Linked DNA regions of Homo sapiens. The protein of the gene in region 7 purifies or fractionates together with the protein of the main gene of each other region. This does not show direct contact. Each region holds a gene or a part of one and is shown on either strand. Other genes may lie near its edges. The genes, in order: COPZ1, PYGL, NAA15, QNG1, ETFA, ECHDC1 and DUSP28.

What was found.
Region 1: the proteins of DUSP28 (region 7) and COPZ1 purify together in Homo sapiens (affinity purification with mass spectrometry, with the first as the bait; one large-scale study listed by BioGRID). This does not show direct contact.
Region 2: the proteins of DUSP28 (region 7) and PYGL purify together in Homo sapiens (affinity purification with mass spectrometry, with the first as the bait; one large-scale study listed by BioGRID). This does not show direct contact.
Region 3: the proteins of DUSP28 (region 7) and NAA15 purify together in Homo sapiens (affinity purification with mass spectrometry, with the first as the bait; one large-scale study listed by BioGRID). This does not show direct contact.
Region 4: the proteins of DUSP28 (region 7) and QNG1 purify together in Homo sapiens (affinity purification with mass spectrometry, with the first as the bait; one large-scale study listed by BioGRID). This does not show direct contact.
Region 5: the proteins of DUSP28 (region 7) and ETFA purify together in Homo sapiens (affinity purification with mass spectrometry, with the first as the bait; one large-scale study listed by BioGRID). This does not show direct contact.
Region 6: the proteins of DUSP28 (region 7) and ECHDC1 purify together in Homo sapiens (affinity purification with mass spectrometry, with the first as the bait; one large-scale study listed by BioGRID). This does not show direct contact.

Annotation. Positions count from the first base shown.
Region 1 is NC_000012.12:54,349,131-54,352,346, forward strand, and holds the end of COPZ1 (coatomer subunit zeta-1), read left to right. Parts: intron 1-489; coding exon 490-528; intron 529-1,345; coding exon 1,346-1,393; 3' UTR 1,394-2,716; downstream 2,717-3,216. UniProt on the Homo sapiens protein: The coatomer is a cytosolic protein complex that binds to dilysine motifs and reversibly associates with Golgi non-clathrin-coated vesicles, which further mediate biosynthetic protein transport from the ER, via the Golgi up to the trans Golgi network.
Region 2 is NC_000014.9:50,937,984-50,941,483, reverse strand, and holds part of PYGL (glycogen phosphorylase, liver form), read left to right. Parts: intron 1-278; exon of another isoform or gene 279-683; intron 684-3,500. UniProt on the Homo sapiens protein: Allosteric enzyme that catalyzes the rate-limiting step in glycogen catabolism, the phosphorolytic cleavage of glycogen to produce glucose-1-phosphate, and plays a central role in maintaining cellular and organismal glucose homeostasis.
Region 3 is NC_000004.12:139,304,505-139,308,004, forward strand, and holds part of NAA15 (N-alpha-acetyltransferase 15, NatA auxiliary subunit), read left to right. Parts: intron 1-3,500. UniProt on the Homo sapiens protein: Auxillary subunit of N-terminal acetyltransferase complexes which display alpha (N-terminal) acetyltransferase (NAT) activity. The NAT activity may be important for vascular, hematopoietic and neuronal growth and development.
Region 4 is NC_000009.12:83,943,243-83,946,742, forward strand, and holds part of QNG1 (queuosine 5'-phosphate N-glycosylase/hydrolase), read right to left. Parts: intron 1,748-3,500; coding exon 1,552-1,747; intron 1-1,551.
Region 5 is NC_000015.10:76,283,970-76,287,469, reverse strand, and holds part of ETFA (electron transfer flavoprotein subunit alpha, mitochondrial), read left to right. Parts: intron 1-988; coding exon 989-1,099; intron 1,100-1,731; coding exon 1,732-1,833; intron 1,834-3,500. UniProt on the Homo sapiens protein: Heterodimeric electron transfer flavoprotein that accepts electrons from several mitochondrial dehydrogenases, including acyl-CoA dehydrogenases, glutaryl-CoA and sarcosine dehydrogenase.
Region 6 is NC_000006.12:127,340,810-127,344,976, forward strand, and holds the start of ECHDC1 (ethylmalonyl-CoA decarboxylase), read right to left. Parts: upstream 2,801-4,167; 5' UTR 2,527-2,800; intron 1,599-2,526; exon of another isoform or gene 1,563-1,598; coding exon of another isoform or gene 1,547-1,562; intron 851-1,546; exon of another isoform or gene 678-850; intron 1-677. UniProt on the Homo sapiens protein: Decarboxylates ethylmalonyl-CoA, a potentially toxic metabolite, to form butyryl-CoA, suggesting it might be involved in metabolite proofreading. Acts preferentially on (S)-ethylmalonyl-CoA but also has some activity on the (R)-isomer.
Region 7 is NC_000002.12:240,558,857-240,563,156, forward strand, and holds the start of DUSP28 (dual specificity phosphatase 28), read left to right. Parts: upstream 1-1,500; 5' UTR 1,501-1,828; coding exon 1,829-2,221; intron 2,222-2,473; coding exon 2,474-2,611; 3' UTR 2,612-4,300. Other genes in the region: ANKMY1 (ankyrin repeat and MYND domain-containing protein 1), read right to left, coding at 1,875-2,094. UniProt on the Homo sapiens protein: Has phosphatase activity with the synthetic substrate 6,8-difluoro-4-methylumbelliferyl phosphate (in vitro).

The DNA.
Region 1 (3,216 bases), on a different chromosome or scaffold from region 7:
CCCATCAACTCCCCGCTTTGTCTTCTTAGGCTGCTGTTGCAGCAGTTTATTTCTTCAAATTAACATGCTGTCGTTACCCATCAGGCTTTGCGGGATCCATTAAACCACTCCTGGCTCCCCCTCATCCTTTCCCTAGTGATACTGATATTCAGAAAAGGCCTTTTCTGACTAGGGAATCAGGTCCTCCACCCCCACGTTAAGGGAGTTGAGGATCAGATAACCTGCTGGTTACTCTGAATGGAGTTAAATCTTTTAAGAAGTCCTCCTGCCTTAAAATGGAAGCTGGATGAAATGACCCTTTTTTGTTCATAGTCCCTCTGGCCAAGTAAAATTGTAGCTGTACTAGTCCCTAGAAGGGACTGAGAAGTTCAGTGCATCTGCCCTTTGTTTCAGTTTAAAGGATCACTTTTTTCTTCTCTAATACCAGACTCCAATCAGGTCTTACTCCAGCTTTCTCCCACACTAAATGCTTGTATCTCTGTGCCATAGGGTGAAGATGTCCCCCTTACGGAGCAGACCGTGTCTCAGGTATGACTCTCCCTTCTTCCTTTCCAGATGGACTGGGTCACTAAAGAGGCTAGAACAGCATTCCACCCATACCTCTCAAATCTGAGTGAAACTAGAGACTCAAGACACATCTTCCTTGGCTCCCTCTTATTCCAGAGAACTGGGACTCATACAGCCAGCCACTCCCTACCCCTACTTCCAACTCCTTTCTCAGTTACCTGTGAGCAGTGGCTGTCAGCCTTGCTCTGTACCCTTCAAACCCTCCCTGCCTGCCTGATGCCTCATTCAGTGATTTATTCCCCAGCAGAGGCTTGCCTTAAGCAGATGGTCTGTGTGCATTTGTGCACACACACTCTCTTTCTCTTATTATTCAATTGAGGGCTAAGCTGGAAATGCATATTCTAGAATATGCAGGTTTTGCAGATCCATCTTGCTACCTTGACTGCAGATAGATTGTCTACCTGATGTAGGGGGAAGGGAGGGGTTCCGTTTTCTACCCACTTGGAATTCTCACCAAGAAGTCCATCTGGATTTGTTACCCGCCCCCTGCCCGCCGCCCCTTTTAACATATGTCCAGTAACTCCCTTTTTTTTTTTCTTTTATACCAGGTATACCTCTTCTCTCTTCATCCCCTCAGTGGGTTTGAATTTTTTTGGAATTTTCCAAACAATCTGCTAGGGCCTTAGAGAGCTTCTTCCCATCTCTTTACCCTTGGGGATTTTCTATTCTCCATTCTTCTAAGGACAGGGAAGACAAGTGAGGGGAAGGAGATCCCCAGCCCTCATCCTTACCCTGCCCTGTCAGCAAGCTTTCCTCAATGCTGCTCTTATCTCTGCAGGTGCTGCAGTCAGCCAAAGAACAGATCAAGTGGTCACTCCTTCGGTGAAGACCTCACTGTTCCTGGCTCTTCATCCTCTTCAAAAAATTTGCATGTCTGCTGTGAATTTTCATCTAGTTCCCCAATCGATGCTCTCAGGGTCATCTCGGGGATCACAGGGATCCTTAAATCTCCATTCTGTTTGTGGTTGCCCCCTCAACCTCCCCTACACCCTTCCTATTCTTTTTCATTCTTCTTGCAGTTCTGGGAGTAAAGCTCCCAGCATATTTAGATAATAGGGCAGGGGAAGCACCCTCTTTCTTTCTAGACTGGATTATGCTCACATGCTCCCTTGCCCTGACATTTTTGTAAATTCTGTGCCCTTTGCTGTAGCTACACTTCAGATTAAAGTAGGAGAAAGAATGTGCTGAGTGTTTTCCTCCCTTTGCCTCTACCTGGCCCTCATCCCAACAGCCCAGCAAGGGGAGAGAGAAAGAGAATTCTTTTCTATAGAACGAGTGGGGGCGGGGATGGGTAGGGATTTATCCAATCTAAGCCCTAACCCCACTTAGTGACCTCAGTGTTTTCTTCCATTCCTTCTTACTGCCCTGTCCTCTGCCTTGGAAGAGGCTTTGGGAATAGTTCATAGGGAAGGGACAACATGGAAGAAACAGCGATTTAAATTGTATTGAACAGGGCATATAAAATGCATTCTGTACCCTGATCTGGCATATAGCTTCAAAACTGCAGTGGCGAGTGTCCATCTCTTAGTTAGCTACCTTAACTGTCCACCCTTACTACCTGTGGGATCGTTGCCTGGTTTGTCTTCTCTGTGTCCTGGAGCAAAGCCAGTTCCTAAAACTAAAACTCCATTCTAGTCTTGGGAAGAAAAGTTTCTACTCAGAACTGGGGAAGGAGTGGAACTTATGACTTGGGCCTCTAGGCTGTCTCTGTCCCCTCAGCTCCCCGACATGCATTTACTCTCTGCCGTGGGTCTGCAGTCGCTGCAACCTACCCTCTCTCTGCCTCAGCCTTACACCCAAGCAGTAGGTCTGTGCTCTCCCTGTCTCTAGGTCGCTGAGAGAGGTGCTTTTCTTCATAAAACCTTTGGGGTTTGGATTTCCCCAGGAAGATGGAGAATGGAATACTCACTCTTGGGTCTAATCTTTCCCCTTGACCCAGAACTTCCTCCCCACAAAAATGCCTTTAAAAACCTTCCTGAGACTTAAGCATTCTGCCCCACTTACTAACTGCCAGTTCTCCAGCACTGAGGTGGGGCAGATAACGGGGCATATTTAAGGGGGCATCTTTGTGTAAAAGATGCATGGAGTCAGGAGAAAACCACCTTCATAAACTGCTCTGTGCAAAGAGGAATAAAACATTTTTTCCAAACTGCCTTTGTGTGATGTTTCTGTTTCTCTTCCTCTCTTTTTGGCAGCTACTCCTGTTCCTCCAGCCCCCCGTCATTCCCCATCTTATAATATTTCTTCCCTCCTACCTCAGAGACTCCTAGCAGTGCCCCCCCATCCCTAATTTACGGGGCTGTTTGCCTCCTTGGCATCTCTCCGTCCCCTCGCCTGGAAATTGGCGCCAGGGGTGGGGTGGGGATGGTATTTTCTCAGTGGGAGTCCCAGGGAACTGAGTTCTTCCCCCATCACCCCCAAAGCCAGCTGCCTGCTCCCGCCTCAGCCATTAGTAACCCAGAGACGCGCACCTGCGTGGGGGCTCTTCTCCAGCCCTTGCTCACTTCCTGCACCTCCCACTCCTGCTCTGAAACGGCGCTGAGCGGGTTATTTATCGGAGCCAGCGCTGCTCCAGAAGGTCAGGACGGTGGTGTAAATAACCTCTTCTCGCCATTTCCCCGTCCCTCCAGAGCCTGCTCCCCTCCCCCT
Region 2 (3,500 bases), on a different chromosome or scaffold from region 7:
GAATGACGTGCTCTCCTCCATTATCTCTTCCTGCCTTGGTGAGGCTCTAGCTACCCATTTGTTGCAGCTGACTTCACGTGGTTATTTTGCTTTCCAGAAGTGGTAAAACCGGCAGCCTGAGGCTGAATAAGGATAGCAGACATACTTTGTTGGCCAAGACATTTTTCAGGAATTTAATTTTTAGCGCCTGTGGTCAGGACTTGCACACTCCATTTCTTAGCCCAGTACTCTTCTTTGTTTTATGTGACCTCAATTACACATTTATTTTCTCTGCCTAGCTCCTGAAGGCATTTGAGTATATGATCCCGTCTCATTCTGTGCATTGTGGTCTGCTCAAGCTTCCTAAAGCAACGCATCTTGCCCCTGCTCAATTATCATTGGCTCCTCTTGCCTGCCATAGAACTTAAGCAAGTATTCGAAAGCACTTCTCAGTCCAGGTGGGCCTGTTCTTCCCTTGTTATCTTCCATTACCCTCTGTACCCACCTTGCTCTCCCAACAAACCAATCCCCACTCTGGGCCCCCGATTCACTTGCAGTGTCCTTCCTACCACATTTCTATGCTCAACTCTTGCCTGTCCTGCAAGTCTCAGGTTTATTGACAGGTGTTCCAGAGGTCTTCCCGGAAGTACCCAGGCCCTCTGACTAATGCTGGGGATAAAAATAAAACATACAATTTAAAAATATTTGTTATATCTTCTTTATTTTATTTTACAAGCCTTTTGAAAATATCCACTTTTTACATAAAATACTAGTAATCATAGTACATGCATGTAATTTATAAAGTATATTGGAGATGCTCATATATTTTACTATCAGTCATATGTAACAAATATTTAGAGACCAGTAAGTAAGAGTATGGCCAAGATCTATTTTTTGAAGTCTTATATATTCCCAAATATAAGGAGAGATTACCTCTAAGAAGTTATTTGTGAGAAAACAGGGAATCACCTTACGTTCCTGTCCTTATAAAGTCTGTCATGCAAGGAAGTATTTTCTCATTTACTTTATTCTGAGCAACCACATATCTCTCAAGAGAGACTTTGAAATATTTTTAAGAAGACTTAAGTTCGTGCTAATGTGGAATCATTAAAAAGGAGGCAAATTTAATACAGATGTAGTCATTATTCCTGGGGGTATAACCTCACAATTGCAAGTGTGGAATATATACTATATAAACAAGCTTTTTGTAGATTACTTAAAAGAAAAAGGCAAAACATCATGGTTATAGAGATAATGAAAATACACACATGGAAGGATTTTTTTAAACTGGGTAATACTATGCAAATGGGTATTTGTGGCTTAAGATACTATTACCTGTGACAGCGGTCATCACGTACTAGAGCACCAGCCATTGCCTATGTCTGCCCCAGAGAAGGTACTTTTATCCAATCATTCGAAGGTATCTAATAGCTGGTGAGGGTTCTAGTAACAGCATTATAGACATTCAAACAACTTGGATGAAAACGAAGATGATGTGTTCTGGAAAGCAGTGTTAGGTGGCCCGTTAGGTCATGGATGTTGACCATTTGTTGTGAAATTTAGAACTCAATTGTTCATAAAAGGAAAATGGGAAAGAATGAAATTTCCAAGTTGACGTTTTCAAATAATATTTTGTTTTAAATATTTATGTGTAACTAGTATGTTAAATATGATAATACGCCTTTATTATACTGAATTCTACTCACAATTTTTTTTGATTGGCCAAATTATTATTTTTTCTTTTTTTACTTCTTATCTTATGGAAATGGGGCAATCCCTAAAATTTGAGGTAACTATATTGGTGCATTTACAGATTTTTGCCATTTTGTTTTGTGTCTAGTAGAGAAGAGAGGATAGATGATTGGAGAATAAGATATTGTAAAAGGGGGCAATGAAGTTACTCACTGGTGCTTTTTTTTTTTAATTAGTAAACTGTGCTGTATATAAAGAAGGTTTTCAGCAGGTCTGAACTTTGTACCTCTCACCTTCAACTCTGATGATATTTGCCTGACTTTTACCATGTCAAAGGCAAATAATGTCTAAGTCAATAGAGAAATTTCCAATTTCAATAAGAACAAACACCAATAAACCTTAGGTAGTCTTCTTGTTCATAAGGAACTTGCCAGTAAATAGACTTTATAGAAAAATTTGATTCTAAAATTAATTGTAGGCCGGGCGCTTGGCTCACGCCTGTAATCCCAGCACTTTGGGAGGCCAAGGCAGGCAGATCACCTGAGGTTAGGAGTTCAAGACCAGGCTGGCCAACATGGCAAAACCTTGTTTCTACTAAAAATACAAAAATTAGCTGGGCATGGTGGCAGGCGCCTGTAGTCTCAGCTACTCAGGAGGCTGAAGGAGAATTGCTTGAACTAGGAGACAGAGGTTGCAGTGAGCTGAGATTGCGCCACTGCACTCCAGCCTGGCCGACAGAGGGAGACTGTGTCTCAATCAATCCATCAATAAATAAATAAATTAATTAATTAATTAAACTGTAAAATTTCTTACAGTAATCAGCCAAGGAGGAATATTTTCTACCCATGCGGTGTGTGGGAGTTAATCTTTGTGTTTCTTGGATGACTTGAGATAGTCATAGCCAACTCAGCTTACCGGCACCCACCAAGGTGCCCTATAAATATTTTATTAATGAATGGTGAGCTATGGCCGTCTGACTTCTGTTTGTCCAAAACCTATGCTTTATTCATGAGGTTCATGATCAGGAGAGGGAAAAAACACAAAACATTGAATCTACTTAGATGAGTTTGCTTTTTTTCTCCCCGGGGGTAAAAAATACTGAATTACTTCGCCAAAAATAGTGCTTTGCCAAAACCTGTTGTCAGTAACACTTTTATTTAGTCCTTCATACATCTCTATAGGAGTGTTAGCAGAAAGGAGTCACCATCCCAGACTCCAAGAGAGGGTTCTTGGATCTCGCACAAGAATTTGAGGCAAATTCATAGAGTAAAGTGAAAGCAAGTTTATTAAGAAAGTAAAGGGGCCGGGCGCAGTGGCTCGCGCCTCTAATCTCAGCACTTTGGGAGGCCGAGGTGGGCGGATCACCTGAGGTCAGGAGTTCGAGACCAGCCTGACCAACATGGAGTAAACCCCATCTCTACTAAAAATAGAAAAATTAGCTGGGCATGGTGGCGCATGCCTGTAGTCCCAGCTCCTCAGGAGGCTGAGGCAGGACAATCTCTTGAACCCAGGAGGTAGAGGTTGCAGTGAGCTGATATTGGACCATTGCACTTCAGCCTGGTGACAGAGCAAGACTTTGTCTTTAAAATAAAAAAAGAAAAGATTTTGAAATATTTTTAAATATCTTAAGTCCATGCTAATTTGGAATCATTAAAAAGGAGGCAAAGAAAACCTTTTATCAGCAAGGTTTCTGTGACCTGTATCTTGTGCAGACCTCCTATTTCATCCTGTGACTTAGAATGCCAAACGTTCTGAGAATGCAGCCCAGTAGGTCTCAGCCTTATTTTACCCAGCTCCTATTCAAGATGGAGTCACTTTGGTTCAAACAC
Region 3 (3,500 bases), on a different chromosome or scaffold from region 7:
TTTGAGTCCCTTATGTAAAGTGGTGTAGTATTTGCATATAACCTATGCGAATGTATACTTTAAATATCTCTAGATTACTTATAATACCTAATGCAATATTACTGTTATATAGTTATACTGTATTTTAAAAATTTGTATTTTTTATTGTATTTTTAAAAATAGTTTTTACCTATGGATGCAGACACCAAGGATAATGAGAGCTGACTGTATTTACTTCTATGCAGCGTTATCCCATGTATAGATTGCACCACTACAATTAGGCTACAGAACAAGTTCCTTCAGTCCAAAGTACCCCCCTCTGTTGCCCTTTTAGAACCACATCCATTATCTCTCCCACCGCCCTCCCATCCCCTCTCGCTGCAGGCTCCAGCAACCGGTACATGTCCTCTATTTGTATAATTTTGCCATTCTTTTGGGTTTAGAGATAGAGTCTTCCTCTGTTGCCCAGGCTGGAGTGTAGTGGCTATTTATAGGCTCTATCAAAAGGGCACTGTAACCTCAAACTACTGGACTCAAGCAGTCCTCCCGCTTCAGCCTCCGGAGTAGGGGGGATCACTACAGGGCTACTACATCCAGCTAATAGTTTATTCCTTTTTATTGCCAAGTAGTATTCCATGATATGGATGTACCACAGTGTGTTTAACCATCCATATAATAGCAATTTTTGATTAAACATCTTAATTTTTTTGTGGTAGTGTTAGTGGGGCAAAAACCTGTAAGTTTATTGCCAAAATCACAGTGCTGAAGATCTATTGATAAGTTATATGTGAGAGAAATGTGGAAGTCACTAAATGAAGGAAGAGTAAAGGAGCTAAAATGTCCTTATTGTTCTCATACATTAGGAATGAAGAAAGTGTTACTGACCAAAAGGATAGTATTGATTTTTTGAAATTGCTTCTGTTTCTTGAGATTTGATAGTAAGTTAGTGCTTTTAAGATTTTTTTTTTTTTTGCCCGGTCTGATAAAGGAAATGTTGGACATAATGTGATGTGTGTGCTCTATGTAATCAAGTGTTGCTAGGTTGGTAACTTGTTGTTTTTTTTTTTTTTTGAGACGGAGTTTCGCTTTTGTTGCCCAGGCTGGAGGGCAATGGCATGATCTCGGCTCACCGAAACCTCTGTCTCCCGGGTTCAAGCAGTTCTGCTTCAGCGTCCTGAGTAGCTGGGATTACAGGCGTGTGCCACCACACCTAGCTAATTTTGTATTGTTAGTAGAGATGGGGTTTCTCCATGTTGTTCAGGCTCGTCTCAAACTCCCAGCCTCAAGTGATCCACCCGCCTTGGCCTCCCAGAATGCTGGGATTACAGGCCTGAGCCACTGCTCCTGGCTGCTTGGTAACTTGTTAAATCATTCCTGCAGCATTCAACTTTTGAGCTGCTACTTTGTTAGTTGTACTGTACTTGTTATGATAAACTTAAGTAGGAAATACAGTTAGTTTGTATTTCAAAATAAACATTTTTTTCCTTAAATTTTTAATGGAAACCTGCTTTACACATAAGTTTGCAAAAATTTTAGAGTTTCTGCAGTGGATTTGCCTGGCTTGATCTAGTCTAGTTGATCTCTAAAATTCAGTTTTGTTGTATATTTTTCTCTTTTTTCCAATATTACTCTTCTGTTTTCTGACTAAAGCATTGTCCTAAGTTAGTCAAAATGCTTGCATAATGTTTCTTGCTGATAATTTGTCTAGAAAAAGGATGGGATGAATTTAATGTGACATATACTATGTAAGAGTTTATTTTATTTTGTTTGTTTTTTGAGACAGTTTTGCTCTGTCACCCAGGCTGGAGTGCAGTGGTGTGATCTTGGCTCACTGCAACCTCCACCTCCTGGGTTCATGCCTCAGCCTCCCAAGTAGCTGGGATTACAGGCGCCTGCCACCACACTCGGCTAATTTTTTTTTTTGTATTTTTAGTAGAGATGGTGTTTCACCATGTTGGCCAGGCTGGTCTTGAACTAGTGACCTCAAGTGTTCTGCCTGCCTCGGCCTCCCAAAGTGCTGGGATTACAGGCATGAGCCACTGCACCTGGTCCTATGTAAGAGTTTAAGGAAGACTTGTGTTTGCCAGAAGCTGGTTTTTTTTTTTTTGGTCTGGTTTTTTTTTTGTTTTGTTTTGTTTTGTTTTGTTTGTAATTACAAACTTTTAACTTATTTGGAAAATTAAGTCATTAGAAAATTGTGGCCTTTGCCTACTGTTGATGCTATTTGTTTATCTAAAAGTTTGAGGAGGTTACCAGATATTTATACCACTTTGTTAGGATCTAGGTTAAGGGTAGGAAAAATGAGGTTGCCAGAGTAGAACAAAATCCACACCTTAGATTTTAACCTGCTTGGAAAAGATGGACATATCCTAATGCCTTTCAATCAAGTATTGGTAGGTTGGTTGCTGTTGCTGCTGCTTCCTTCTCTCTTTTTTGCTCTTCAAATGTTAATGTCAGTTATAAGAAAAATCTAAGTTGGGAATAGTTAAAATATTGTACATCAATAAATGTAGTTTTGGACTTTAGCCTGAATGATTTAAATTGTTAGTTGTAAGTGTTAAAGGACAGAATTTTTCTTTCCTAGAAAAGTGGTGAGAGAAGTTAAAATAGCATGATGATTATGTTTGTGATTTGTCACTATTTGCCAGGTAAAATGAGAAATCTACCATTTGCCAGGCTCTGCTCTAGGTGCTTTAGAATAGCACTGCACAGTAGAATTTTCTGTGATGATGGAAATATTTGTTATCTGCTCTAATATGATAGCCATTGGCCATGTGTAGGTTTGTTTTTTGTTGTTTTTGTTAAGACAGGGTCTAACTCTATCACACAGTCTGGAGTGCAGTGGTTTGATCACGGCTCACTGCAGCCTCCACCTCCCGGGCTCAAGCTATCCTCCTAGCTCAGTCTCCCGAGTAGCTGCGACTACAGGCGTGCCACCACGCCTGGCTAATTTTTGTATTTTTGGTAGAGACGGGGTTTCGCCATGTTGGCCAGGCTAGTCTTGAACTCCTGGGATCAAGCAGTCCTCCTGCCTTGGCTTCCCAAAGTGCTGGGATTACAGATGTGAGCTACTGTGCCTGGCCTGGCCACATGTAATTATTGCACACTTGAAATATGGCTAGTGCAACTGAGGAAATGAATTTTTAATTAATCTTAATTTAAATTCAAATAGTCACATGTGGTGAATGGTTACCGTTTTGGACACAGCATGCTTTATTTAGAGTCCTTTCTTAATTCTCAAAACTTTTCAAGGTGGGGACATTTTTATTAAGCAAACAGACTGAGATTAAGGTCAACAGCTAGTGTTAGTTACAGTCTGGAATAAAACTTTTTTTCTTTTCAGGGCACTTAACATCACACCTGCCTAGTGTTTAACTATTTAGGGGAGGGGTGTAGGAGGAGGGTGAGGGAATTGTTAGGCAAAGGAGTAGTAATACTTATTAGGTGGCTGTATACATTGTATAATAAGTAAATTATTATTATTATTATTATTTTTTTGAGACGGAGTCTCACTGTTGCCC
Region 4 (3,500 bases), on a different chromosome or scaffold from region 7:
GGCAGGAGAATGGCTTGAACCTGGGAGGCGGAGGTTCTGGTGAGCCGAGATCACGCCACCACACTCCAGCTTGGGCAACAGAGCGTCTCAAAAAAAAAAAAAAAAAAAAAAAAAAAGAAAGAACACTGGACGATGGAAACCACGTAAGAGAATACTCAGAGACAGGAATGAACAGTGTGTACAAAACAAAAAAAAAGCAGCTTAATATGGCCATATGAAAAATAAGCCCTGATTGCTAAATGTTGTCCCTTTTAAAGGTATCCAACAATTAGTGACCCTTGACATGGGCATGATGACAAAAAATAGCATGTTCTTTTTCAAATGAGGAAATGGAAGACAAAACAGATTGCCCATGGCAGCATAAAAACCCAGTAGAGCCAACCATAGGAATAATGGTACCTTTATATTCTGTGTTATTCTGATCTGGGGGATTCAAATCTATTTCACAAGAGGAAATTATTCAATCATAGAATCTACTTCTTTTAAAAAAATACATAAGGCCGGGGTGGTGGCTCACACCTGTAATCCCAGCACTTTGGGAGGCCGAGGTGGGTGGATCACAAGGTCAGGAGATCGAGACCATCCTGGCTAACACGGTGAAACCCCGTTTCTGCTAAAAATACAAAAAATTAGCTAGGTGTGGTGGCGGGCGCCTGTAGTCCCAGCTACTCGGGAGGCTGAGGCAGGAGAATGGCCTGAACCTGGGAGGCGGAGCTTGCAGTGAGCCAATATCGCACCACTGCACTCTAGCCTGGGCAACAGAGTGAGACTCCGTCTCAAACAAACAAACATAAAGAGGCCAGGTGCAGTGGCTCACGCCTGTAATCCCAGCACTTTGGAAGGCTGAAGTGAGAAGACTGCTTAAGCCCAGGAATTCAAGACCAACCTGGGCAACATATTTTTTAAATAAAATAAAATAAAGAAAAAAGTAGCAGAAAATTTTGCACCTAAAAGAGAAATTAACATGAAAATCATATAATTATTTTCCTCATACAAGGAAATGTTATAAGCTAATTTTCACACAAACTTTTCAACCCAATTTACCTAAGCTTATATATCATAAGGCTCCTAGTCTTGATATCAATAATCATATCCAATAATGGCGAATAAGCCTAAGGAAGTGAGTGACTTGTGCAAGATATCCCAGTGCAGACCTTGGAGTCTCTTCACTCAAAAGCCAATTCATATTACCTATCTTTCAACCTACCTTCATATAACCATGTAGTGTGCTCTTCAGCTTAACACTCTTCAAATACTATAACTGATGAACTATCAGTGTTACATACTTTCATGTAACATAAATTTAGGTTTCATTAGGCTATGAAATTATAATGTTCAAATAGCACAATTTTCTACAATATCCACATTTCACAGTGTAAACAAAAAGAAAAATCATTTTCTCTACATTTTGTCTTTGCATTTTCCTTTTTACATATACTATGAACAATAAATAGTACTTTTTTTTTAAAGCAAAGGAGACCTTTTGTAAAAGAAACTAAACCGAGATCCAACAATTCATAGTATAACAAAGAATGACTTAAAGTTGCAAACCTTTGAGAAGCTTCTTCAGTAGGTCATCAGAGTATTTCAGGGCTCCAAGATGAGCAAGAACCTGAGGTAATCTATAATCAGCAAACATGGTGATACTGGAGATGTCCTTGAAGCAGCCATCTCCTTTTCCTTCCAATACACTCCACGTATCTGCTACAAGGATTTGGGCTCGTTTGTAAAAAGAAACTCTTTTCCCCTGATGAATGAAGAGAATATAAACGTTATTTGAGTATCTGAAAGCTTTATATATGCTATTTTTTAAAGGTGCAGTTGAAACATTTTTTAAAAGGCAGAATAATCTTACTTTGTTGGTAAGAATTTATAGATTGGCCGGGCACCATGGCTCCCGCCTGTAATCCCAGCACTTTGGGAGGCTGAGGTGGGCAGATTGCTTGAGCCCAGGAGTTCAAGACCAGCCTGTGAAACATGGCATAACTCCAACTCTACAAAAAAAAAAAATTAGCTGGGCGTGGTGGCACACATCTATGGTCCCAGATACTCAGGAGGTGAGGTGGGAGAATCGCATGAGCCTGGGAGGTCAAGCCTGCAGTGAACTGTGATCACACCACTGCACTCCAGCCTGGGTTACAGAGGGAGACCCTGTCTCAAAAAAAAAAAAAAAAAATTCATAGATCTTTTACAAGAAACAAAAGGATTTAATGAACATTAAATTTTCTATCACTCCAAACTCGCTTCCCATTTTTCAAGGCACATAAAATACAATTTATGTAATCTTGATACTACTTACTATTCTTTTTCAATGGCATTACTTCATATACAGATTTCTGCAATATAATCCTAGGGCTTATTATTATTATTATTTTTTGAGACGGAGTCTTGCTCTGTCGCCCAGGCTGGAGTGCAGTGGTGCAATCTCGGCTCACTGCAAGCTCCGCCTCCTGGGTTCACGCCATTCTCCTGCCTCAGCCTCCCGAGTAGCTGGGACTACGGGCGCCGTCACCACGCCCGGCTAATTTTTTGAATTTTTTTAGAAGAGACGGGGTTTCACTGTGTTAGCCGGGATGGTCTCGATCTCCTGACCTTGTGATCTGCCCGCTTCGGCCTCCCAAAGTGCCGAGATTACAGGTGTAAGCCACCGTGCCTGGCCCAAGGGCTTATTATTTTAAATGTGTAGATAGCATTCCTTTTGAAAGTTTCTTAAATTAAAACACGTCTGTTTTTCTGATTGCAATATAATTCACATTAATTGTATAATATACAGCCAAGTATAGGCCAGGCATGGTGGCTCACGCCTGTAATCCCAGCACTTTGGGAGACTGAGACAGGAGGATCACGAGGTCAGGAGTTCGAGACCAGCCTGGCCCATATGGTAATACCCCGTCTGTACTAAAAATACAAAAATTAGCTGGGTGTGGTGGCGATCGCCTGTAGTCTCAGCTACTCAGGAGGCTGAGGTAGAAGAATTGCTTGAACTTGAGTGGCAGAGGTTGCAGTGAGCCGAGATCGCACCACTGCACTCCAGCCTGGGCAACAGAGCAAGGCTCTGTCAAAAATAATAATAATTAAAAAAAAATACAGCAACATACAAAGAATAATCATCCATAAGCTCAGGTCTGAAGAGAACCACAACATTCATTTTTAACTGTTTCCTTTCAGATAATATGATTAACTTATTTTATGAAGACATTAATTGATCAACAGCTAGAAAATGATCATATTTACCAATTTTGGAAATGCTCAAAGTTGATATGTAAGTCCAAATATGAAAATAAAATAGCCAATTATATTTATACATAGAAAAGACAAATTTAACCAAGCATTAGTGGGTTATAATTTAACTAAAAAATTCTAGCTAAGTGTGGTGGCTTACACTTGTAATCCCATCAATTTGGGAGGCCAAAGCCAGAGGATTGTTTGAAGCCAGAAGTTCAAGACCAGCCTGGAAAACGATGAAACTCCATCTCTACAAAACACGGCGAAACCCTGTC
Region 5 (3,500 bases), on a different chromosome or scaffold from region 7:
TTAGCCAGCTGCAGTGGCTCGTGCCTATAATCCCAGCACTTTGGCAGGCTGAGGTGGGAGGATTACTTGAACTCAGGAGTTTGAGGCTATCCTGGGCAACATAATAAGACCCTATCTCAAAAATAAATAAATAAAATAAATTAGCTAGGCATGTTGGCATATGCCTGTAGTCACAGATACTTGGGAGGCTGAGGTGGGAGGATTGCTTGAGCCAGAAGGTCGAGGCTATGGTGAGTTGTGATCATGCCACAGCACTCCAGCCTGGGCAACAGAGCAAGACCCTGTCTCAAGAAAAAGAAAAGAAATTCATTTCAGTGTCTCTTCAGTTGATTTTTTGCTTAGCACACTGGTCTCTAGTGGGGTCGGAGAAGGCAGTGAACTCTTCGTTTTTTGCCTGATTAAAGTTGTGTATTCCAGTATGAATGGCTAATTCTGAAATTAGACTTTTCATCTTCCATAATGTTTGAGGGAAAATATTTTGTCATGGTTTAGGTTACTGTTAATGTGATAGCTAATCCAGAGTGTCTCAAATCCTCTTAAAATCTTAGCACATTCATACCTGTTCTTTATGACCTATTGTGTTTTCAAGATATTCCTCCTTTAGCATGCACAGTAGCTACATTCTTCCTAAGTTGTTGCAGCTCATAGTTTTGAGTTACTGATTGTATTGTTTTTGGAGAAGGAAGCTTTGTTCATATTCCTTTTAGAGGTGTAGTGTACCTTCTTAGTGTGGATGCCTGTTCGAGTTTCTTCCTTCTAGGTGTGGTAGTACCTGTCCTGCTTTTAAAGACATCCAGGGTTATACAGATATCTGCTGATATGTTTCTTCACCGTTATGGTTCATTTTTTCCTATACTTAATAGAGTTAGAAGACAACTGGTCAATAGTTATTTCTTGCCTTGTCTGTGAAGTAAATTCCAAGCATCAAAGGAGTGCTAGTTTTGTTGCCTTTTGCTGTTGCTTTTAAGAAATAGATTGTATGTTTCAGGAAATGCTCTATGTACAGTGAAGTGTGATGAGAAAGTGAAAGTGTTTTCTGTCCGTGGAACATCCTTTGATGCTGCAGCAACAAGTGGCGGTAGTGCCAGTTCAGAAAAGGGTGAGTGTTCATTTGGAGTTTTTTTGTTTTGTTTCTTACTTTTTTAATTCATAGACTGTATTATAATAAGAGATGACCTCTGCCTACATTTCTAATGAATAGTATTTGAAAGTTCAATTTAAATGATATTCCCAAGCTTATACAAAAATAATAAATATGTATAACTTACATCTTTTTCACATTATCTTTGGTACTAGGATAGTTGCTTTGGTAGATCAAGGGAGTGGGAGACAGAGGATCTATTAAGATTAAGCTTTTTTACTCTTGTCACTGTTTCCTATTATATTTGGGTGATTCAGTATAACAGAAGAATGTAATAGGAAACGTGTGGAGGGTGTCACACTTTAACATATATAGTGTCTTATTTGAACCTCATAGAAAGAAAGTTATTCTATATTCAGACTCAGAGAATTGAATGATTTCTGGAGTCATACAGCTAATGTGGCAAAGGCTGGAATCTAGTCTCCTTAAGTCTTTCCATTATCAGAGAGAATTAATTAGGAGCACTGAAAATTCACAGTAATTAACTTAAATTTCGTGGAATTATATACTTGTGTGTTTCTCTTGAAAATAATTCTTGTTATAGAACTTGAAATCATAGTCATTGTTTTATTATGTATTAATGTATGCAGCATCAAGTACTTCACCAGTGGAAATATCAGAGTGGCTTGACCAGAAATTAACAAAAAGTGATCGACCAGAGCTAACAGGTGCCAAAGTGGTGGTATCTGGTGGTAAGTGAAATATTAATCTTAAAAGATGTAAATTGAAAATACTTTGATTTTTTTTTTTATTTTTAGTATTTATTTTAGAAGTACACAGATCTTTTTCAAATGTAAGAAGTTGGGAAGTTTGGGATATTATTCCCATTTAACCAATTAGGAAAATGAAATTATGAGCATAATACACAGTTTGGGGTTTCTGTTGCACACCTAGTCACTGGCACCAGGGGGAGCATGGTATAAATCTTATCTGCATAACTTTGCCACTTGGTGCCATCTTATTGATGGACTTCCATGAATTCTGCAGAGTATGGTTGGCTTCTCAATTATAGATAGAACTGGCTTGAATTTCAGGGCCATCTTGTGTATAATTCCTACCCTTCTTTCCACTTGGAAAGATTTCCAGAGTTGTCCATGTCTTTGTGTATAACTCTTTAAAAAGTTTCTTAACATTTAATATCAAAACTGTTAATATTGCATAAGACATGCTTATTTTTATACATCATGCTCCTTGTCTTTAAAAACAATGATTTTTTTATGGCCCACTGACTAACTTTTTGAAAAAATAAGGACTGTTATGCTTTTTAAATCCTTGCAATTAAACATCCAACAAAATAAGCTTTCAGACAGCCTTCTATTGCAAGTATCATTGAGAAAAAAAAATTAATATTTTGAAGTGATATATCTGACTTGTTTTTCGTTTTCTTTTTTTCTTTTTGAGATGGAGTTTCGCTCTTGTTGCCTAGGCTGGAGTGCAATGGCACAATCTCTGCTCACCGCCACCTCCACCTCCCAGGTTCAAGCGATTCTCCTGCCTCAGCCTCCCGAGTAGCTGGGATTACAGGCATGTGCCACTACGCCCAGCGCGGTGACTCACACCTGTAATTCCAGCACTTTGGGAAGCCGAGGCGGGTGGATCACCCGAGGTCAAGTGTTCGAGACCAGCCTGGCCAACATAGTGAAACCCCGTCTCTATTAAAAATACAAAAAATTAGCTGGGCATGGTGGTGGATGCCAGTAGTCCCAGCTACTCAGGAGGGTGAGGCAGGAGAATTGCTTGAACCTGGGAGGCAGAGGTTGCAGTGAGCCGAGATCGCACCATTGCATTTCAGCCTGGGCAACAAGAGTGAAACTCCTCCTAAAAAATAAATAAATAAATAAATAAAAATAATAATTTTGTATTTTTAGTAGAGACGGAGGTTCTGCATGTTGGTCAGGCTGGTCTCGAAATCCTGACCTCAGGTGATCCGCCCACTTCAGCCTCCCAAAGTGTTGGGATTACAGGTGTGAGCCACCGAGCTGGGCCCTGACTTGTTTATTCACTTATTTATTCAAGAAATGTATATTGGTTATCTGTTCTATGACAGGCTTATTGCCAAGTGCTGGAGAAACAGATGAAAAGGCAGAATGTTCTTCCTCTCGAGGAGTTTAAAGTCCTTGAGATGACTCCCATTCAAATAATAACTTTATTCAGTCATTCAGAGAAATTTATTGAGCATCTATTATATGTAGAGTTTTGCTAAATATTGCAGATATGGCAGTGACCAAGATAGATATAGATCCTGAAATTAAAGAGTTTTTATTCTAGTGGGAAAAAAACTCATATTAATTACACAATTAGTTAACTAGGTAATCATAGTAGTGTTGAATGCTTTATAGAAGTATAGGAGTGTCAGAGG
Region 6 (4,167 bases), on a different chromosome or scaffold from region 7:
AAATAAGGAGGAGGGACTTATAAAAGCATTAGCATTTTGTGGGAAAGTAGAATCAGTAAACAACATATCTTCTGCTCTCATTGTAAAGGGTCTGTCTGCTCTGTCTTGATACATTACCCCTCTCTCCAACATCAACACTACAGCAATTAGTATGAACGCCATCAGATCTATATCCTTTTATCCTCAAATCTTTAAAACATTAAATATTTAAGTAATAGTAGTATTTTGCCTCATTAGACATCTTTGATCCATCACTGAAATGCCAATTTTTCCAAGAAAATCTTGTAATACTTCATGTATCCTTTCTCTATTAATTCCATATTTTCTATCTTCTCTCATTCTATTCCCTCCCACTACTGTCTCTCCTTTTCTCTCCTCCTCTTATATTCCTTGTCTGTGCCAGAAAAACCTGAGAACACTGCTTAAGCCTGCTAGATTCACTGACCCCAAGTTTAGAAATCCAATTCTAAAAATTTTATAATAGCCTATTATGTACACTTTCGTCCCAGTTCTAAATTCAGAGACTATCTTAGACAAAAGCTCAGTGATGAGATGACAAGGTGTTAGTCATTATTAACCTACTATAGTATCTAATAGTATAAAGTGAACAAAGCTTAAGATTCAGGTTCTGTAGAAGTATGTAGTTAAACGATTGGTTTTTTTTGGATTTCTTCCAGAATCACAGGAAGATGAAAAGGTTCTGAAGCATTTACAATTTTATAAGCTTTCTTCGGGGTAAAACTTATGTTTAAAACTTGCCATGCAGGATGTCTTGCAGCCCCACCACAAAGAAGATTCAGTGGAGCTGAACAAGCTCACTACCAAGCCACTGAAAAGAGGAAAGAAAGTCCATCTGAGATCAAAGGTCGCACTTCCCATTTTTTTCAAGTTCTGCAAAGGTGATCTGTTTCCCTTTAGTGCACAGGAAATAAGTGAGATGTTCTCTAAAAGCCTTTACCTGTTTCACCTTATACTGTAATCACTAAATCCAGAAGACTAACGCAAACTCATACTTAAAAAGAAAACAATTAGCCTAGAGCACGTAATAGAAATCAGAAGCATTTGATTTCAGACTGTCTGTATATCGCCTGTTTGTAAAAGTTCTGATTCGGTTGTAGGCTGTCATAACATAAACTACCTTTCAAGGTTCATTACATGCCACCCACAACTCTCTCCCTCACACAGCCAAAATGCACAACTTTCAGTTCCTGAAATCCTTTTGATTTTTTCGCCATCTCAAGCTTTCGCATATGCGATCTACCTGTTACATTTTTGTCTTCCTCAGAGTAACTTCAAATCATCTCCTCTAACATAGGACTACATAAAGTCCCCTTATTGTCTGCTCTCAGAACATCTGTATCTCTCATCACCACTCTCACTCACTCTTTGCTGTAATTAGTTTTTTAACCAGTTCTTCCCATTAGTCTTAGCTGCAAGAGGGCATTTGCAGTGCCTAAAGATAATATTCTTAAGACTAAACAGGGGCTTAAGAATCTGGCCACAAATCAACTCTCCAACTACCCTGTTTATAATCCTCACAACTCACCCTGTTTCAATGCCATGCTTCTTCACAGGCTGGCTTCCCTTCCTGGAATGTTAATCATTGCAGGAATCCCAGCTGATTATACAGTCGCCTTTCAGGCCAGAACCCAATAAAAAATCAAGAAAGGATCGCCCGTTCTATTACTGCGCTGCTCCCTCCCCTCGTAGATTTCACAAATATACTTCTCACCACAAGCTTGTCTGTTCCAAGAGAATGCTAGCTCTTCTAAAGAAGGAGCCCTTTGTTTTCCTTGCCCTTGTCCAGTTCCTCTGCATACCTCTAGCACCTAGAGCAACAACTGCTATACAGGAGCCCAGATGTGGAACAGAGCAAAGAACTGAGTGTTGATTTAATGTTGCCTGAAGTCCTTAACAGCACCTTCAACCTAAACTTAACTGTGTTTTTAATCCCCTACACGTGTAATCCCTGTATGTGTGCGCAGCGTTAAAAGGATTATTGTAGCTCAAAAATTCTCCAATGAAAGAACCTCTACCAGAAAGGAGTTGCTCATCTTTCGTTCTTGAAAAGTTGGCTGCACGATACAAGTAAGAAAAGTTTTAGTTAGGCAAGACAACTTATACATAAAAGACAATTATAGGGAACATTACCTAACTTAGCACAGGGCCTCGAATGTATTCCGAAATTAAATCAGCATGTAGAAAGCAAGCCTCCTCATGCTTTTTAAAGTGTAATCTCGCGACCTCGCGGCGCGCTCTGGGAAGACCGATTCATCTCTTCCCCTCGCCCTCTTTCCCCGGCCGGCGCACAGCCGGCCCGTGGCGCTCGGCACCGCGTCTCCACGTCCAGCGCGGGGCAGGCCTGCGCGGCGCTTGCAAGGGACAAGCCGCGGAGCCGGGGAGGCTCGCCGTCTGGGACACGTTTGGAGAAGCGAGCGGTACAGTCCATTCCACGGCGACATTTTAGGATTCTCCCACTGACAACACTAAACTGAAGCGCTAAGACCAACCCTTACGACCACTTACCGTCGCAGGCCACGGTGGTGACTTCCTTTTCCGCTCCCCTACACACGCTTTTCCGTTTTGCGTGCCTTTGTTTCCGCTCCCCCCGGGACCATCGTGCGCCCCTGTCCTCCGTTCTTGTAGGTCCTCTCCTCTTCTCCGCGTCTTCTCTTTTACTATCCCACGCTCTCCTTTCCTTTCTCCGGGAACTTTATCCCGTTCCCCTGCCGGTTCCCGTGACCCCGGAAATCCCGCTCCTGCCGCGAGGCGCCCTCCGCTTCGCGCTCCCTCGTGTCACGAGGGAGCCAGGGTGGGCGGTCTCCTATTGTACTTGGCTTTTGAATTTTCGCTTTTGCAGCACAAAGGTAGGGCTGGGAAAGGAGGCTGCCGAACCGTGCTTGTTTTCGCTCAGATAAACGTGAGAAAAAGTGGAGGTGAGGAAGCCAGTGTAGGCAAATAGCGAGAGGGGAGAAGACAGAAAGGTACCGAAGGTCGACCTTTTTTAGGTATCTTATCCAAGTTATTGAGGGGAATGGGTATTTAGCCAGTTTTTTGTTTGTTTGTTTTTATCCGAATATCCAGTGTGTGTCTTGAATGTGTGAATGTGACGTGTTTATAAAGCTCAGTAAGCTTAAAATTCCGTGCCAATACATTTTGTATGCCGCAGACAGGAAGTGCTTTGGAAGACCCTTGAAAGGGGAGGTGATTTTACACCAATATTGAGATCATTTTGTCAGAGTCGTGGGACTAAAGGTAGACCTTAGGTAGTCGATGTCAAAGATAAGCGCAGCTGGACGTTAAAGCGGTGAAAACATTCAGTTAACTACTGACAGGAAAGAGCTGAGCTCTATTTCGATTCGTGCAGAGATCATCTGGGCATTTTTAAAGGGACGTTTTAAAAGGAGAAAGGGGATATGCGGGCGCTCAGTAGAGAAAGTGAACCTACAGAGTTGTTAGTGTAAATGTGATTAGGCCAGCTGTGTGTTTGTGTGTGCGCGCGTTTTAACAGTTACCGCAGGATTCTATCCTCCTACGGAGGATTTTATCCTTCTCGATTACATTTCAAAGGAATGACTCTCTGGTCCTTGAGAGAGAACTTCTGAGTGGCAAGAAATAAGTCTTTACAATTGCAAGCCCTTTAGTAAACGTTCTAAGAAAGGGATGTCAGAGACCTATCATCAGTTGTGTGCTGGTTACATCACGTAGTTAAGCTTTCTGAGGCAGTCGCCCTGGGCACAGGGCCTTATGCTGCTAAAGCTTGCTAGAGTTTGGTCAAGTCTCTGAACGCAGGGGTTTAGATGGGATGGTCATGTTCCTGGAGTTCTGCAGTGGTCATAGGTATGATTTGAATAAGTACAGGGAATATTCTAGTCGGAGGAACAGAATGTGCCAACGCGCCGAACAGGGAGGATAGTTTTACGATACGGAGATGTGTATGATAGGGAATAAGTGGGAGCCCAGTTTGGACTAATTGGAAGAAGTCATTATTAGAAGTACTGTATTTAATTCTAGTTTGTTATAAAATGAGACTCCAAGATCACTGAGCCATTTCACTGAGACTCCAAGATCACCCCAATGCTAGGCTAATCTCCATGGCGCCTAGATCTATGCCCACTCCATTCCCCATGTTGGTCCCCATAGTTTCAGGCACCAGGCTCCAACACC
Region 7 (4,300 bases):
CGACCCAGTACAAACCACTCAGAAAAATGTTTCATTAAAAGTTCGGCATACTACATGCATGCACTCTAATATTTTCATGTAGTCTATTATTTCTCTAAAAACTAAAATGCTGATCATGACCCACAGAATTGATTTCACAACCCACATTAGTTGTGAATTACAACTTGCTAAGGAGTCAGAACCAACATGTAGAAACCCTCTGTTCTTAGCAAGCACATTCTGGTTACACTGTGGGGGACTAGCACCAAGTCCAGGAGACAGAGGCTGGCCCAGACTAAGTGTGGCAATGAGATGCAGAGACACTTAGGATGAATTGGTTCCCAATCCATTACCTCAATGGAGTGGGAGCATGATGGTTCAAGTAGCAGGCTTTGGAGCAGAAAACCCACCTCAACCATCCTCCAACCGTAAAGGGTGATGATGATTCATGAAACAGTCCAGGAGGAGGAGGGACTTCAGGTTTTGTTTGATTCATTTCAGTGGCCCAACAGTGGCATCAAGGACCTTGGCTCTCCCATCTCCTCTGCTTTCACCCAAGGCTGGCTTCCCCTTATGGCCATGAGAGAACAGAGGAGCCTTCCAAAGTGCTCTCTCCTTCATGGGTTATTAGACACCAAGCTCATTCCCAGAGCAGTCACGGGAGTGTGGCCTTCACTTTTGGCCAGAGACAGAGCCAACTCCTAGAAAGCGGAGGGAGACAGTGTCCCAACCTAATCAATGGCTCCCATGAACGCCAGGGAAAAAAAGGGAATTCCACTCCTCCATCCTAGGAAAGTTGGAGTCCTTCCTTAGGGTGGAGGAAGTGGGAAACAGATGCTGATAAGACCTCCACGGAGGTGATGTCTGGAGCTGCAACCAGGGAAGACCTGGCTGCAGACATATTTGAGTCTTTAGCTCAAGAGTGAACCCCAGGCTGCAATAAAGATCTGACAGTTACCAATGCTAGAAGGCTGATGGACAAAGCAATGACGATAACCCAGAGAGAGACTGTATGCAACTGAAACTTCAATTGCTAAATGTCTGTAGGGCTGTTGAGACAGTTGCTTTTCAGTGTATCCATTGCCTGAAAATTACCAGATGTCAGAAAAATTGAAGGAGTCTTAAATGGCAATTTCATGGACATTAAGTGATATTAAATTTTTTAAAGTTACAATGCTGACCCCAATAAATTACTTAGAAACAGCAAAAGGAATAGTGTGGTCTATGAAGAAGTGATGAAAATAGAAATTAGTTTTATTTTATGAGCCATGTGTTATAATACATAGAAAAAAATGCACCAATTACAAAGCGGGCCACAAAAAGGAATAAACGTAAAGCCGACAACGCAGTCACTAGGGAAAGGGTGAAGACACGGGAACCACGCAGCCCGCCGTCCACGTGCACCGGGTAGCCACGGGGCCCTAGCCGAACGACGCGGACGCGAAGTGGGCGGGCCCGGCCAAGCCACGCCTCCGCGCCAGACGCCGCAGTAGAGCGGGCAGGGCGCTGCGCCCAAGAGCCACAGACGCAAGCCCAGTGCCACAGGCCGCGGGGGCGGGGAGGACGGCGCCCGGGGACAGAGAACATGGGACGCAGAGCGGTCCAAGGCCCCGGCGCCCTGGTGAGGCCCAAACCTCCCGCCATGCCCCGGCCCCAACGAGACCCAAGCCCCCTGTCCCGGCCCAGCGCCCGCGGGGGACCCAAGCCCCAGCCTGGTCCACCTCGGAGGCCTCTAGGACCCGGGGGCGCCCGGCGGCCCGCCCGGCTCCCACAAATAGACTCCTGGGCGGGCGCCTGAGCCCCCAAAATAGATCCTCAGGGCCCAAAAGCAGACTCTTCGGCGGGCGCCATGGGACCGGCAGAAGCTGGGCGCCGCGGGGCCGCCTCGCCCGTACCTCCACCGTTGGTGCGCGTCGCGCCCTCACTCTTCCTCGGGAGCGCGCGAGCCGCGGGCGCGGAGGAGCAGCTGGCGCGCGCGGGAGTCACGCTGTGCGTCAACGTCTCCCGCCAGCAGCCCGGCCCGCGCGCGCCCGGCGTGGCAGAGCTGCGCGTGCCCGTGTTCGACGACCCGGCTGAGGACCTGCTGGCGCACCTGGAGCCCACGTGCGCCGCCATGGAGGCCGCGGTGCGCGCCGGCGGCGCCTGCCTAGTCTACTGCAAGAACGGCCGCAGCCGCTCGGCCGCCGTCTGCACCGCGTACCTCATGCGGCACCGCGGCCTCAGCCTGGCGAAGGCCTTCCAGGTGGGCGGGCCTTTAGGGGGGCGGTGTTTCGAGAGGGGCGTGTCTTCCGGGGACGAGTTTTCCGGGCGGGGCCGGCTTCGGGATTGGGACAGGCACTTCCGGGAGGGGCGGGTCTCTCTCGTGAGGGCGGGCTTAGGGAAGCAGAGAGGCACTTCCGGGTTGGGCGGGGCCCACTCTTACAGCTGGGCCCGCCTTGGCCCCTGCTGGCCATTAGCGCGACTTGGGGTTATTCAGTACACTTCTTGTTTGCAGATGGTGAAGAGCGCTCGCCCGGTAGCAGAACCGAACCCGGGCTTCTGGTCTCAGCTCCAGAAGTATGAGGAGGCCCTCCAGGCCCAGTCCTGCCTGCAGGGAGAGCCCCCAGCCTTAGGGTTGGGCCCTGAGGCTTGAAGCTTGAAGGCCTGCTGCCTGGAGGAAGGATGTCCCTGCACTGATACAGAAGGCTGGTCTTTACCCTTCTTCCTCACTGTCATATCGAGTTTTCCTTTGTGTGTGTGTGTGTGAAACATAGTGCTTTTAATTTTATATTTCCGGCTGAGGTGATGCACAAATTATCTTACAGACACAAAAAGAAATACATTTGGTAAAACATCGAAGACAAATTAAGAAAAAGCAAATAGGGATCCTCCATTATTTACACTCCAGAATCTTGAGTGTTTGGGGGTGCCGGCGCATTCTACCAGTCTCAGGGAAGGACATGAGTACAGACTACAGTAATCAGAATCTGAGTCATAGGTGAAATCAGGAAAAGCAACTCTTCTTGTGTTTATTTTTAGTAGTGTCATAAGAACGGACTAGTTCTTCCTGCGTGACCACGGATGCTTCTGTTTGAGAAAATGCATACCCACGTGGGACATTTAGATCAAGAAAGCTGTTGATGAAGACATTGTTGAAGGGCAACTTGGGTGATTGGGGAATTATTCTCTTCATCAGCCCCTCTGCAATACAGCTGGAGCTGTCCCATAGGAGTTCGGACAATTACGGACATCCTTTTTCTTTCTCTCTTTCTTTTTTTTTGTTTGTTTGTTTGAGACAGAGTCTCTGTTGCCCAGGCTGGAGTGCAGTGGCGCAATCCCGGCTCACTGCAACCTCCGCCTCCCTGGTTCAAGTGATTCTCCTGCCTCAGCCTCCTGAGTAGCTGGGACTACAGGTGTGTGACACCAGACCCGGCTAATTTTTTGTATTTTTAGTAGAGATGGGGGGTTTCACCATGTTAGCCAGGATGGTCTCAAACTCCTGACCTCGTGATCCACCCACCTCAGCCTCCCAAAGTGCTGGGATTACAGGCGTGAGCCACCGTGCCCAGCCTCCTTTTTCTATTACTAGAGAACTCCAGGACATTAAGAATTTCAAAAGTGATTTTTTCACCCATGGCTTCTACGGTGACAGAGTATGGTGTTCCTGTAGGGAAACAAAGCCAAGTTTTTTTGCTCCTTTCACTAAAGCTGCTTCATCCGGGGAGGAAGCCTGGTAGATTATAATATTTCCAGGGATAACAGTGTGGCACACAGATAACAGGGTAAGAAATTGGTCTATATAGTTTTCTGTGGGATGGCCATTCTCAATGTTCTCCAATAAACTGGGGTAATTAAAATATCAGGGCTCGGATGGAAGGTGTTGCACCATAAATGACACCTGCAGTGGTACTTGTTAAATGTCTTAACATTGCAAGTGAGGGTTCCCATTTTATCAGAAAATAGAAATTTTACCTGCCCAAGTTCTTCACTGAGATTGAATGTGCTGGCCATGGTGTGGACACTATTTACTTTATAATGCACATCTTGATCCCAGTTTATAAACTGGGCCTGAATATATTTCACAATTTCCATAGTGACCAGCAGACTAATGGGGATGAGGTACTGTTATAAGATGATGAACACCAGTATGTCAAACACAATGCTGTGAGCTGGAATCCTCTTTCAGGTACCAAATGTCACCATACTTTTTATTCCATAGCACGGCTCCCACGCAGCTCACTACAGACATGACCAGAGCAGCAGGAACCAAAGGGAGACCCGCCCATTGTCACTTTCTTAATCTCTGATCTCTTGAGGTGATTTGACAGAATTCTGCAGGAAT